Linked DNA regions of Homo sapiens. The protein of the gene in region 2 interacts with the protein of the main gene of each other region in a biochemical or structural test. Each region holds a gene or a part of one and is shown on either strand. Other genes may lie near its edges.

Region 1 (3,672 bases), on a different chromosome or scaffold from region 2:
GTGCACAATCTCGGCTCATTGCAACCTCCACCACCTGAGCTCAAGTGATTCTCGCATCTCAGCCTCCTGAGTGGTTGGGACGACAGGCAAGTGCCATCATGCCCAGCTAATTTTTTAAAAAAATTTGTAGGCCAGGGGTGGTGGCTCACGCCTGTAATCCCAGCACTTTGGGAGGCTGAGGCAAGCAGATCACGAAGTCAGGAGATGGAGACCATCCTGGCCAACATGGTGAAACCCCATCTCTACTAAAAATAAAAAAAATTAGCTGGGTGTGGTGGCATGCGCCTGTAATCCCAGCTACTTGGGAGGCTGAGGAAGAATCACTTGAACCCAGGAGGCGGAGGTTGCAGTGAGCCGAGATCGCGCCGCTGCACTCCAGCCTGGTGACACAGCGAGACTCCCATCTCAAAAAGAAAAAAAATTGTAGAGAAGGGTTTCTCCATGTTCCTCAGGCTGCTGTGGAACTCCTGGGCTTAAGCAGTCGGGCTGCCTCGGCCTCTCAAAGTGCTGGGAATACAGGTATGAGACACTGCCCTTGACCAAAAATAAACTTTATTGAAGTGAAACATATATACAGAAAAGTACACAAACCATGAGGATAAAACTTGATGGATTTTCAAGTGAACATACCCATGTAACCAGCAGAACAGAGTTTAAACAGAATGTTACCAGCACCCTAACTGTGCTTGTACCTGCCTTCGAGTCTGGAAAACCACTGACTTCTGGCAGGACAGATTTATAGATTTTTGCCTGATTTTATGCTTCGTATAAATGGAATTGTACAGTATATCCTTTTTTTGTGTCTGGCTCCTTTCATTCAAAATTATGTAATGTTCATCCATATTGTTGTTTATATTGTAATTTATTCATTCTCATTGCTGTATAGTATTCCATTGTATGAAAATACTACAATTTAGTAATTCATTCTACCATTCAGGAACTTTTGGGTAATTACTAGCTTTTGACTAATGCAAAGAGGGTTGCTATAAACATTCTTGTTTTTTGGTGAACATAGTGTACACAGTTCTTTTGAGTACATACCTAGGAGTGAAACTCCTGGTTCAGAAATACGCATATGTCTGGCTTTAGTACATACTGCTCAGTAGCTTTCCAAAGCGACTGTACCAATTCATACCCCCACCAGCAATGACTGGAAGTTTCAGTTGCCTTAAATCCTTGTTAACACTTGGTAGTCTTTTGTTCGTTTTGTTTTGGCCCTTCTGGTTGCCCATATAGTAGAATGGCATTGTGGTTTAAATAACTACTTAAATTTGTATACTTTCTTTTGTGAAATGCCTAAACAAGTCTTTTATTCTTTTTCCTATTCTGTGGCCTGCCTTTTTCTTATGGAATTGTAGTTCTTTTTAAATCTTGAGTGTACATTTTTAAATTACCTTCTGTGGCTTGATTCTTCACTCTTTTTTTTTTTTTTTTTTTTAGACAGTTTCGCTCTTGTCTCGAACTCATGACCTCAGGTGATCCACCTCCCTCATCCTCCCAAAGTGCTGGGATTACAGGTGTGAGCTACCGCGCCAAGCATACTTTTTCATTAAATATTTTAAAGATATATCCATATTGTTGCATGTGGTTATAATTTCACTAGCCTATGATGTATATTGTGTGAATATATCATAAATTATCCATTTTCCTATTGATATTTCATTGTTTCCAAATTTTTGCTGGCATGAACAACATTATGCAGACATTCCTGCATATATATGTGCATAAGAGTTTCTCTCATGTATATACTTAGGAGTGAGGTCACTTAGATCATAAAGTATGTGCATATTTAACTTTCTACAAGTGATTATACCAATACATACCCCTACCAGGATCATCAGACTTCTTAATTTTTGCCATCTAATGGATACAAAATTATCTCATTTTAGTTTTTCCTATTGTATGAAATATTTGTCTTTTGCACATTTTTTACAAACTGGGTTATTTTTCTTCTTATTGATTGGAAAGAGTCATTTACATGTTCTAGATCCTTGTTATATGTTACATGGGTTAGAAATAACTTTTTTGTTTTTGGTTTGTTGTACATGATCTTTTTGTTTCCCAACTTAAATAAAAAGAAGTTCTTAGAGATAGTTCACATACCACAGAATTCACCTTAAATGTGTTCAGTTGTGTTTTTTGTTGTTTTTGTTTTGTTTGTTTTTGAGACAGAGTCTGGCTCTGTCGCCCAGGCTGGAGTGCGGTGGTGTGATCTCGGCTCACTGCAACCTCCACCCCCTGGTTTCAAATGATTCTCATGCCCCAGCCTCCCAAGTAGCTGGGATTACAGGTGCACCACCATGCCTGGCTAATTTTTAAAAATATTTTTAGTAGAGATGTGGTTTCACCATGTTGGCCAGACTGGTCTGGAACTCCTGACCTCAAGTGATCTGCCCATCTCAGGGCCTCCCAAAGTGCTGGGATTACAGGTGTGAGCCACTGTGCCTGGCCAGTTCAGTAGTTTTTAGTACATTCACAGAGTTGTGCAGTTATCACCACAGTCCAGTTTTAGAACATTTTCGTTATCCCCAAAAGAAACCCTGTAACCCGTTCCTTCTCCCCCAGTCCATAGCAACTACTAGTCTTCTCACGTGCACTCTCTCTCGATCTCTCGCTATTTTTTTTTTTTTTAACAGAGTCTTGCTCTGTTGCCCAGGCTGGAGTGCAGTGGCATGATTTCAGCTCACTGCAACTTCCGCCTCCCAGGTTCAAGGGATTCTCGTAACTCAGCCTCCCGAGTAGCTGGGACTACAGGTGTATTTTTGTATTTTTAGTAGAGGTGGGGTTTCACCATGTTGACCAGGCTGGTCTTGAACTCCTGACCTCAAGTGGCGCACCCACCTTGGCCTCCCAAAGTGCTCGGATTACAGGCATGAACCACTTCTCCTGGCCTCTACTTTATATATTTCTATAGATGTGCCTATTCTGCGTATTTTTAAAATTTTATTTATTTTATTTTTTGAGACAATATCTCACTCTTGCTCAGGCTGGAGTGCAATGGTGCAATCTCAGCTCACTGCAGCCTCAACCTCCCTGGCTCAAGTGATCTTCCCTCCTCCCTCCCTCGAGTAGCTGGGACCACAGGTGTGCACCACCATGCCCCAATAATTTTTGTGTATTTTGGTTGAGATGGGGTTTTGCTATATTGCCCAGGCTGGTCTCAAACTCCAGACGTCAAGTGATCCACCTGCCTCGGCTCCCCCAGGTGCTGGGATTACAGGCGTGAGCCACAGTGCCTGGCCTATTCTGGGTATTTTAATAAACAGAATCATAGAATATATGACCTTCTGTTTTTATTTTCTTTTATTCAGCATAATGTTTTCAAGTTTCATTCATGTCATAGCATGTATCTGTACTTCATTCCTTTTTATTGCCAAATAATATTCCATTGTATAGGATATACCACATTTCCTTAATCCATCCAGTGATGGACATTTGGCTTGTTTCCACTTTTGGCTGTCATCAGTAATGCTGCTATGAACATTTATGTACAGGATTTTCTGTAAACATGTTTTCATTTCTGTTGGGTATATACCTAAGTGTGAAATTTCTGGGTCATATGGTAACTCTGGTTAATTTTTTGAGGAACTGCCAAATTGTTTTCCAAAGTGGCAGCAGCATTTTACGTTCCCACCAGCAACTGGAACTAAGGTTCCAGTTTCCCCACATCCT
Region 2 (3,655 bases):
CACTTTGTTTTTCTGTTTGATAATTTTAAGGCCATGATCTGAGAAAAAGGAAATAAAACTATCTTTAAATCTAAAAAATTATTATTTCAGACCTTCCTGATCTTAGCTGCCTGATGTATATGAAATCAATTGATTTCAGCAGAGCTTTCTTATATCTGTCCTCACAATTGTTGTTGCTTCTTTTATATCTGATGGCAGGTTCCTATTTTCAGCTTTTTTAAAGTAGATTTTAAAAATATTTACAAAAGCATGTGTCATAGTTATTCATTCAATCGTGGCACTTCTAATTTCTACTCTAACTTTTTTCCCTTTTGATTTGAAAACCTCTTGGGGTTGTGGGATTGGAGAGGTATATAGGGCTAAGTGTTGAGAACAGGGAATTAGGTTAGTAATATTAGTCTGGCTGGGTAGATGTGAGTCCTGAGACAAAGTATGTTTCTCTGCTCTATCTCAGCTTTGTGTGAGCCCAGCCAGTTTGTGCCCCAGTGCCTTTGTCTGTAACTCGTATGACAATACTTCTTTGGAAAGTACTCCATATAATTATTTTGAATTCTGCTTTTTTGACCTAAAAATGACATCAGTGGATGCGCTTGTTTCACTCGCATCCTTATATGACACCATCTATGTTCTTTTTCTTACATATTAATATTTGCTTGCACAGCTTTTAAATTCTTGTCCAGTGGATACCAGCTACAGTTGGAACCAAATTATACATATTTTAAAACTTTGTTGTTAGGCCCAGTGGTATTCCTAAAATAACCTGTTGTAAAGTTCTGGTTTAGTGGTATGTAGCTGAAGTTACGTGCGTCTATTTTTTAAAAATAGAAATAATGTGGTGAATAAACTGTGATTAGCAACACACAACTTGCTGAAACAACGGTTTACCATATCATTCAAAAATGGTGTATCTTTTAGCATCTATATATTAAACCATCATGCCCTTAGGGTTCTAAGAACACAAATAGTGGGACATTAAAAAAAATGTGTAGATTAACCAAGAGGTAGGATCTTTTTGTTTTGTTTTGTTTTTACATGCATGCTTTCAGCTAAGCTGACATTTTGTCTTCAGAGTCATTGAACCTATTTTATTAAAAATCTTCCCATCACAGTACCTGTTTTATATTTTTTGCCCACTAATGTGACATAACTAGATCAATATCTATCTATAGGTATGTATCACGCCTGCTCAACATCACACTGCTAAGTGGCAGCTCCTGTTATTTGGAAATGGTTATACCACAGCAGTGTTAAAATGAATTTAAACGCAGTACCAATGTCACATGCAATGGAATTCAAGAGTGAAGCCTGTTGTTGGAATTATGTAACTGGCCGTTTAAATCCCAGTTGTATTAAGTGCCAAAGTGCATTGCAAAGGACAAGTTCTGTTTCACCCAAGTGGTAAAAGGCACAGTCAAAAGAAGTCGTGCATTTTTTTAGCTGTGGTAAAAAAAAAATACATAACCTAAAATGTACCATCTTACAGTTCAGTAGTGTTCTGTGTATCCATGTTGCTGTGGAAGGGCATGCATTTTTATGTTGCACGTGCTTTATGAAGACTAATAGGGATCTTTTTTTTGAATTTCTCCAGTGGTATTCTCTGATTTGGGGGTAATATTTGAGAACAGCCTTATATTTTTCCTCTTAGCACAACCTAAATAGAATTTGGAGCTTCTCCTATGACAGACTCTATGTGCAATTTATTGTTGGCCTGGTTAAGCAGCTGTAATGTTGTGTCATTAATACATTGATTTTGGCCCTCTTACTTTAATAAGCTTTGCCATTGCAATTAATTGTACTTAAAAAAAAATCCTGGCATTCACAAAGATTCAGTGAAAGGCATCAATTTTTATTACTCTGATGTTTACTTCTCAGCCCCTCCATTGGGGGTTTTAGAACTTTGGACTGTGTCTTATATGCATTTAAGAGCCATGTATTTAAATTTGGAGCACGGTTACATAAGCCACACTAGACTTGTTAATGAATAAGGCAGTCTAATTTACATCATTCATTATTTAATACAACTTGCAAGCTGGAGTTGAGAACATGCTGTCTTCATAGTGTAGGTATTTACAGACATCAGCTTGGCACAACTGTGTGGAGTCTTTTTAGTTTCATACCTTCAATCTCTGCAATATGGACACTTTTGTTACCCTGGGTAAAACAGTGGAAAAGCCTTGTGACCCTTTTGACCCTACTTTCTTCCACCTCCCCTTCCATCACCCATTATTTATACAGGAAAATGGGTTTGATTTTTTTCTTCTCTGAAAAGTGATATTTCCTTATGGGAATTCAGAATGCTGGAGTTAAGAGAAGAGCCTGGGCTGTATGTTATTACAAGCAAGTATTGGGAAGTTGAAGCAATGTGGTCCCAGTTCCCTAGTGTGGAGTTTAGGTCTGTTTAAGGTCTCTCACTGTTTCTATCCCATAAACCTCTGTTTGTGTCTGCTTCAATATTCCCTTATAAAGGTGTTTTCTAAGCTGAAGAGTTGGCTGAACAGCTGAGAGTTGAGGTCTCTTTCTCCCTAGTAATATTCTGTATGATCTCTTTGACTATATCTAGGTCATAGGAGTATAAAAACTAGTGTTTTTGTTTAGCTGGGGAAGGGGAATTGAATTTCTTTTCTCTTCTCCTTTCTTTCTTTCTTTCCTTTTTTTTTTTTTTTTTTTTTTTTTTTGCCTTGAGTGTTAAGCAAGTGCATCCAGTTTTAACTCATTGGTCATCTTGCCTGCTAGGGAAAAAAACATTATCAAACCATTATTGAATACCATAAACTGGCCTTATCCCTCTGGCTAACTTTACCACTTCTCTAGAGAGTTTCTTGTAGGTTCAAAAGCTATAGCGTAGGATGTGACATGAAAGACCTGCCCCTTGGAACAATGCCAATTTTTAGTTGCTTCTGATGCCTGTAATCAATAGGAGGATTTGGGGGAGAGACTATTGAAGCATGGCAAAGTTTTTACTTGTTTGATGTGTGTTTGTGAGAGAGAGAGAGAAAGATAGAGGGAAGAAAAAAAACCCTGAATCTTGGATTATTTATGGTTGATCAATCATTTTTATAGTCTACTTGGTTGAGCTATTTTAAAACAAATCCCACCTCAAGCCTCAAATGGCAAAGATCTGAGCTCCACTGTGGCCTGATAATTTTAGCTCACATTTGATTGCTGATCAATCTCCATTAGAAAAGTAAAGGTCCCATATAACTGGGTGCCTTCTCACCACTTACTTTGCTCTCTGGGGTGTCCAAAGGACTGGGAAGTTATAAATATTGATCTGGGAGATGGATGAGTGAATGTGCTCAAAGTTACAAAAATCTTGCAAAGAAAAGCAATGTGTAGATACTAAGTTTATTCCTTATGTGTTTCAAAAAATAAAAATAAAAAAGCATATCATGGAAAGCTGAAGTCAGGAGACCTGGAACTTCATCCCAATGTCACCACTACCCAGTCACTACCCAGTTACCTGATCTTGAAGCAGCCTTTTAATGTTTCTGGGCCTCAGCTTGTCACATGTAAACTGAGGGCTTTGGATTTGATGCTCAGACAAGTTTCTCAAGGCTCTGAAGTTCCCTGAAGCCTCGGTCACGGAGATAAGGAAGTGTATACATCAGCTGTGAAGGAAGGGCATGATACAAGGTGCTCGGGGTCTGGCAGTGTG
Region 3 (3,655 bases), on a different chromosome or scaffold from region 2:
GTCTGTGATGCGTTCCTGAGTGTATAAAACTGAGAAAGTCCACAGTCCTGTAAGAAGTGCACCCCTGCTGTGTACCACCGAGTGTTAAGGAGGTTTCTGTTCACAGGTTCCTGGTGCATCGATACTCTGTGCTGCAGCAGCATGCAGAGGCCAATGGTGTGGATGGTGTGGATGCTTTGGACACAGCCTCCCACACTAATAAAAGTGGTTATCATGATGACTCAGATGAGGTGAGGCTATTTCTTCTTGAATGGTAGTACCCCCCCCCCCAAAAAATACAAGAAAATAAAGTCTGTCTTCTATTCATGATCAAGATATGCCAGGGCCAAGGCGACTTAATGACCATAAGATTTGGCAAGCCCAGAAACTAGGTGATTGCTTTTGAAATAGGAGTGTTGTGGTCTGTCGGTAATATGGTGCATGTCTTTTTCAGGACCTCTTGGAATAGCTCTTCAGAGGAGCTGGACCCAGCATGGATGGTGGAACCACAGTACCTCTTACACTCCCTGTGGCTCCAACTTCAGGAAATAAATTTCCCATTGCGAGGGACCCAGCTCTGTTTCTGCTGCTTCCATCAAAGCCAAAAGGACCTACACTAAAGAAATGCAGGGTGGGGGTGGGGAACCCTGAGCACTTTTTTACAATTGGCTCTGAGAAAAAGGGAGACATTTTAAATTCTTTAACTTCTTATTTCTCGTCCTGTCTCTTTGCAAAGTATGGGCTTTTTTGTTTTTGTTTTTTAAGGGAAACGAAATGGAATTCGAAGGGACCTTTTCACTAACCCCACTTCTGTGTGTTCTGCATGGCGCCTGCCCCAGGGCATCTGCCAACTCCAGTATCAGCTCTCACAGTGTACTTGGTACCATCCCTGGGCTCTGCTGGCGAGACGAAACAGCTGTAGAGATGAAAACAGGCTGCAGAGGCTGGCACAGCCTGGCCGGCTTTTCTCCATCTGGGGACAGTCCTACTCCAAGAACACTGCACACCAGCTCCTCACACAGATCCCACTTACTCTTTTTTTTTTTTTCAGAGACCACAGACCACAGTGATTTTTCTTTTCCCTTGTTTAATTAGGCAATACCCTTGTTAATTGCCCTTTGGCAACTAACTTAACCATGTGCTTCCCACACAGTACATCAGGAAAACTTACAGGGCAATATTTTTAACTTGGGGCAGGAAGAAGGGAGCAGCAGAGAATTGACTAGATATAGCACCTATTAAAAGAGAACTCTTGCTTCTTCTGAGATTTTTCAAGCTGTGCTTTGTGTGTGTGCCAGTAGACTTACGCAAGGACAGGGTACAAACTTAGCTGGAAGTCTGCCCAGGCTGAATGATCTCTTCCCTAGAGTTGATTGTCGGGTACACAGTGTGAACCCCCGAAGACGGAACCTCACAGTCTTCCATGTTCCCTTCTTAACTGTCGTGTGGCTCGTTGCTAAATCATGACAATGGCTGCCTATCTGCTGCTTCTTAGGTTGCTGTTGTACATGGAACCAGGACTAGAGATTTTTTCAGATTTATAGACTTAAAAAATTAGAATTTTATTACCAGGCTTTCCTTCTCACCCCTTTTTTCTGACTTTGCCAAGTAATTTGTTGACACGAAAATTTTGGAGGAACCAATTGAAAACACACTTCCAGTCTAGATGATGCTTTGTGTGATACATTAAGTTCTTATTTTGGATTAAAAGAAGTTTTCCATTTGATACCTCTCTAAATTAAATAAATTATAGAATGTAGTTGGGTGGATTTTGGGGTGGCCATATAGTAATGGAAAGCTGCAATAATTAGTTTTAATACAGCTTGAATATTTGCTATATAGAAATATAGTATGGAAAGTTTTTGGTCTTAATGTAGCTACTGTGCGGGTCACAGTTTCTCCCAATGATTATGACTGGGACATTCTTTGGTAGATACCATTTGCTACTAGTTTATTTTGTGGCTAGAAAGTCAGTTTTGTGTGTTTTTTTTTTTTTTTATTTGAAGTGCCAAATTAACTTTAGTCAGAATGTGAGCAGATGGCTAAGTTCTCTCCTCCCCAGAATGGATTAACAGCTGCGTGGAAAGTGGGGGAGAGAGTGGATGGAGACTTTTAGAGATGTTAAAACTGCAGTAGAATGAAATGAGTCAGGGAGCTTCAGTTAGAAAATAAAGTTGAGGCAGTTTTTGTGAAGATAATATGGTTAGGGCTGGAGTGCACTAGTCTTTTTGCTTATTCATTTTGCATGGTTTTAAAATTAAAAATAATTCCGAAGATACACCAGCTCACAAATGAAAACGTCAGCCTCTGCCCCACCCTCCCTCCTGCCCAAAGTGAATTTGGTACTCAGAAAAGAACTGTTTATACCACTCACCTTTCTCCCAGCATGTACTCACTGTGGGCAGATGCACCAATACATGGTAATCCTCTTACTCATTTTAAGACGTAGGAAACTCAATATTCTTCTCTAACCATATACGATAGGGCTCTTCGCTTTTAATGATATCTGGGATTTCTGTGGAACTTGGCAAATTTTCAGAGCACCTTCACTCACATAATGTCATTTGAACCTCACAATGTTCTTGGGATGGAGTCAGTTGTTCAGGGTCCCCGTGTGTGTGATAAGCAGTGCTGGCTGGCTGTCTTCAGAACTCTTGGAAATCTTTACACATGCGAGTGCTAACCACTTTGAGCAAGGCTGCCTTCTTGTAGATGACTTGCTGTTCTTTATGACAGGGATCAGTGGCATTTGTTTCCTAGCAGTATTTAGCACCTTTTTGCCACCTTGGTGAACAGAAAATTGTATTTTCCTGTCTTTCATGGCTGAAAACAAAAGTAATGGGAATTTTAAATACGTTTGCAGAAACTGCCCCTCCCCTCATTGAGGGTCACTGCTCAAGAGTGCAGGAGTGGACTCTCCACTGATGGGTCTCCCTCCCCATCCTGGTTTCCACCCCGGGCTGGCTAGCTCTGTTGGTTTGAAGACTGACAGCCAGCCTGGCTCATTCTCATTATTGGCTAGTTAGCTTTCTTTATCAACCTGCTCACTCACAAATGTGTGCCCTCAGCCAGAGAGTAAGAAAGCCCAAATCTGTTACAGCTTCTAAAAAAATAGATTTCTAATTTGTCCTACTCATGTTAGGAGCATTATCTTTGAAGGTAAAACATAGTGTATCATTGTGTAAACTCCCAGGCTTGATGTAGCAGAAGAGATCATTTCTGGAGGCTTCAGCAATGGAATTTAGCATTATAAGAGAGATTGGACAAACCAGTCCAAAGTGGTCCGAGTTCTTAAATCCAGGTAGGGAACTCACTCTTCTTTCTTCTCTGGACCTAATTGGGCATTGGGCTTTAGTGAGACCACAGACCAGGCCCGTCTCTCCTGTAGGCTTTTAATTCAATGGCAACTCTATTTCAAAGAATAAAAGCCTTTGGAGAGTTGCGGCAGTTCTGGGGGCGGGCTCAGGAGAGTCCATAGATCAGCCGTAACTGGAACGTAGAATCTACGTCTGCCTCTGAATGGACTTCCCACCTCCTCTCTCTTGCTCTGATGCTTGCCTCTGGGCCTCTCCATGCCCAAGGTGGTCTTTCATCCTTGACAGGCTGGTAATGTGCTGGCCACCTCCAGCTCCTGCATCGAGTCTGTAAACCAGAGCTGGTTCTCATGGCCTTCGTC

Evidence for each region.
Region 1: the proteins of NTRK2 (region 2) and USP8 form a complex in vitro, tested with the Homo sapiens proteins (one study listed by BioGRID).
Region 3: the proteins of NTRK2 (region 2) and SORT1 form a complex in vitro, tested with the Homo sapiens proteins (one study listed by BioGRID and IntAct).

What each region holds. Positions count from the first base shown.
Region 1 is NC_000015.10:50,511,285-50,514,956, reverse strand, and holds the end of USP8 (ubiquitin carboxyl-terminal hydrolase 8), read right to left. Parts: 3' UTR 536-3,672; downstream 1-535. UniProt on the Homo sapiens protein: Hydrolase that can remove conjugated ubiquitin from proteins and therefore plays an important regulatory role at the level of protein turnover by preventing degradation. Converts both 'Lys-48' an 'Lys-63'-linked ubiquitin chains.
Region 2 is NC_000009.12:84,672,677-84,676,331, forward strand, and holds part of NTRK2 (BDNF/NT-3 growth factors receptor isoform a precursor), read left to right. Parts: intron 1-3,655. UniProt on the Homo sapiens protein: Receptor tyrosine kinase involved in the development and the maturation of the central and the peripheral nervous systems through regulation of neuron survival, proliferation, migration, differentiation, and synapse formation and plasticity.
Region 3 is NC_000001.11:109,310,836-109,314,490, reverse strand, and holds part of SORT1 (sortilin isoform 1 preproprotein), read left to right. Parts: intron 1-106; coding exon 107-230; intron 231-433; coding exon 434-448; 3' UTR 449-3,655.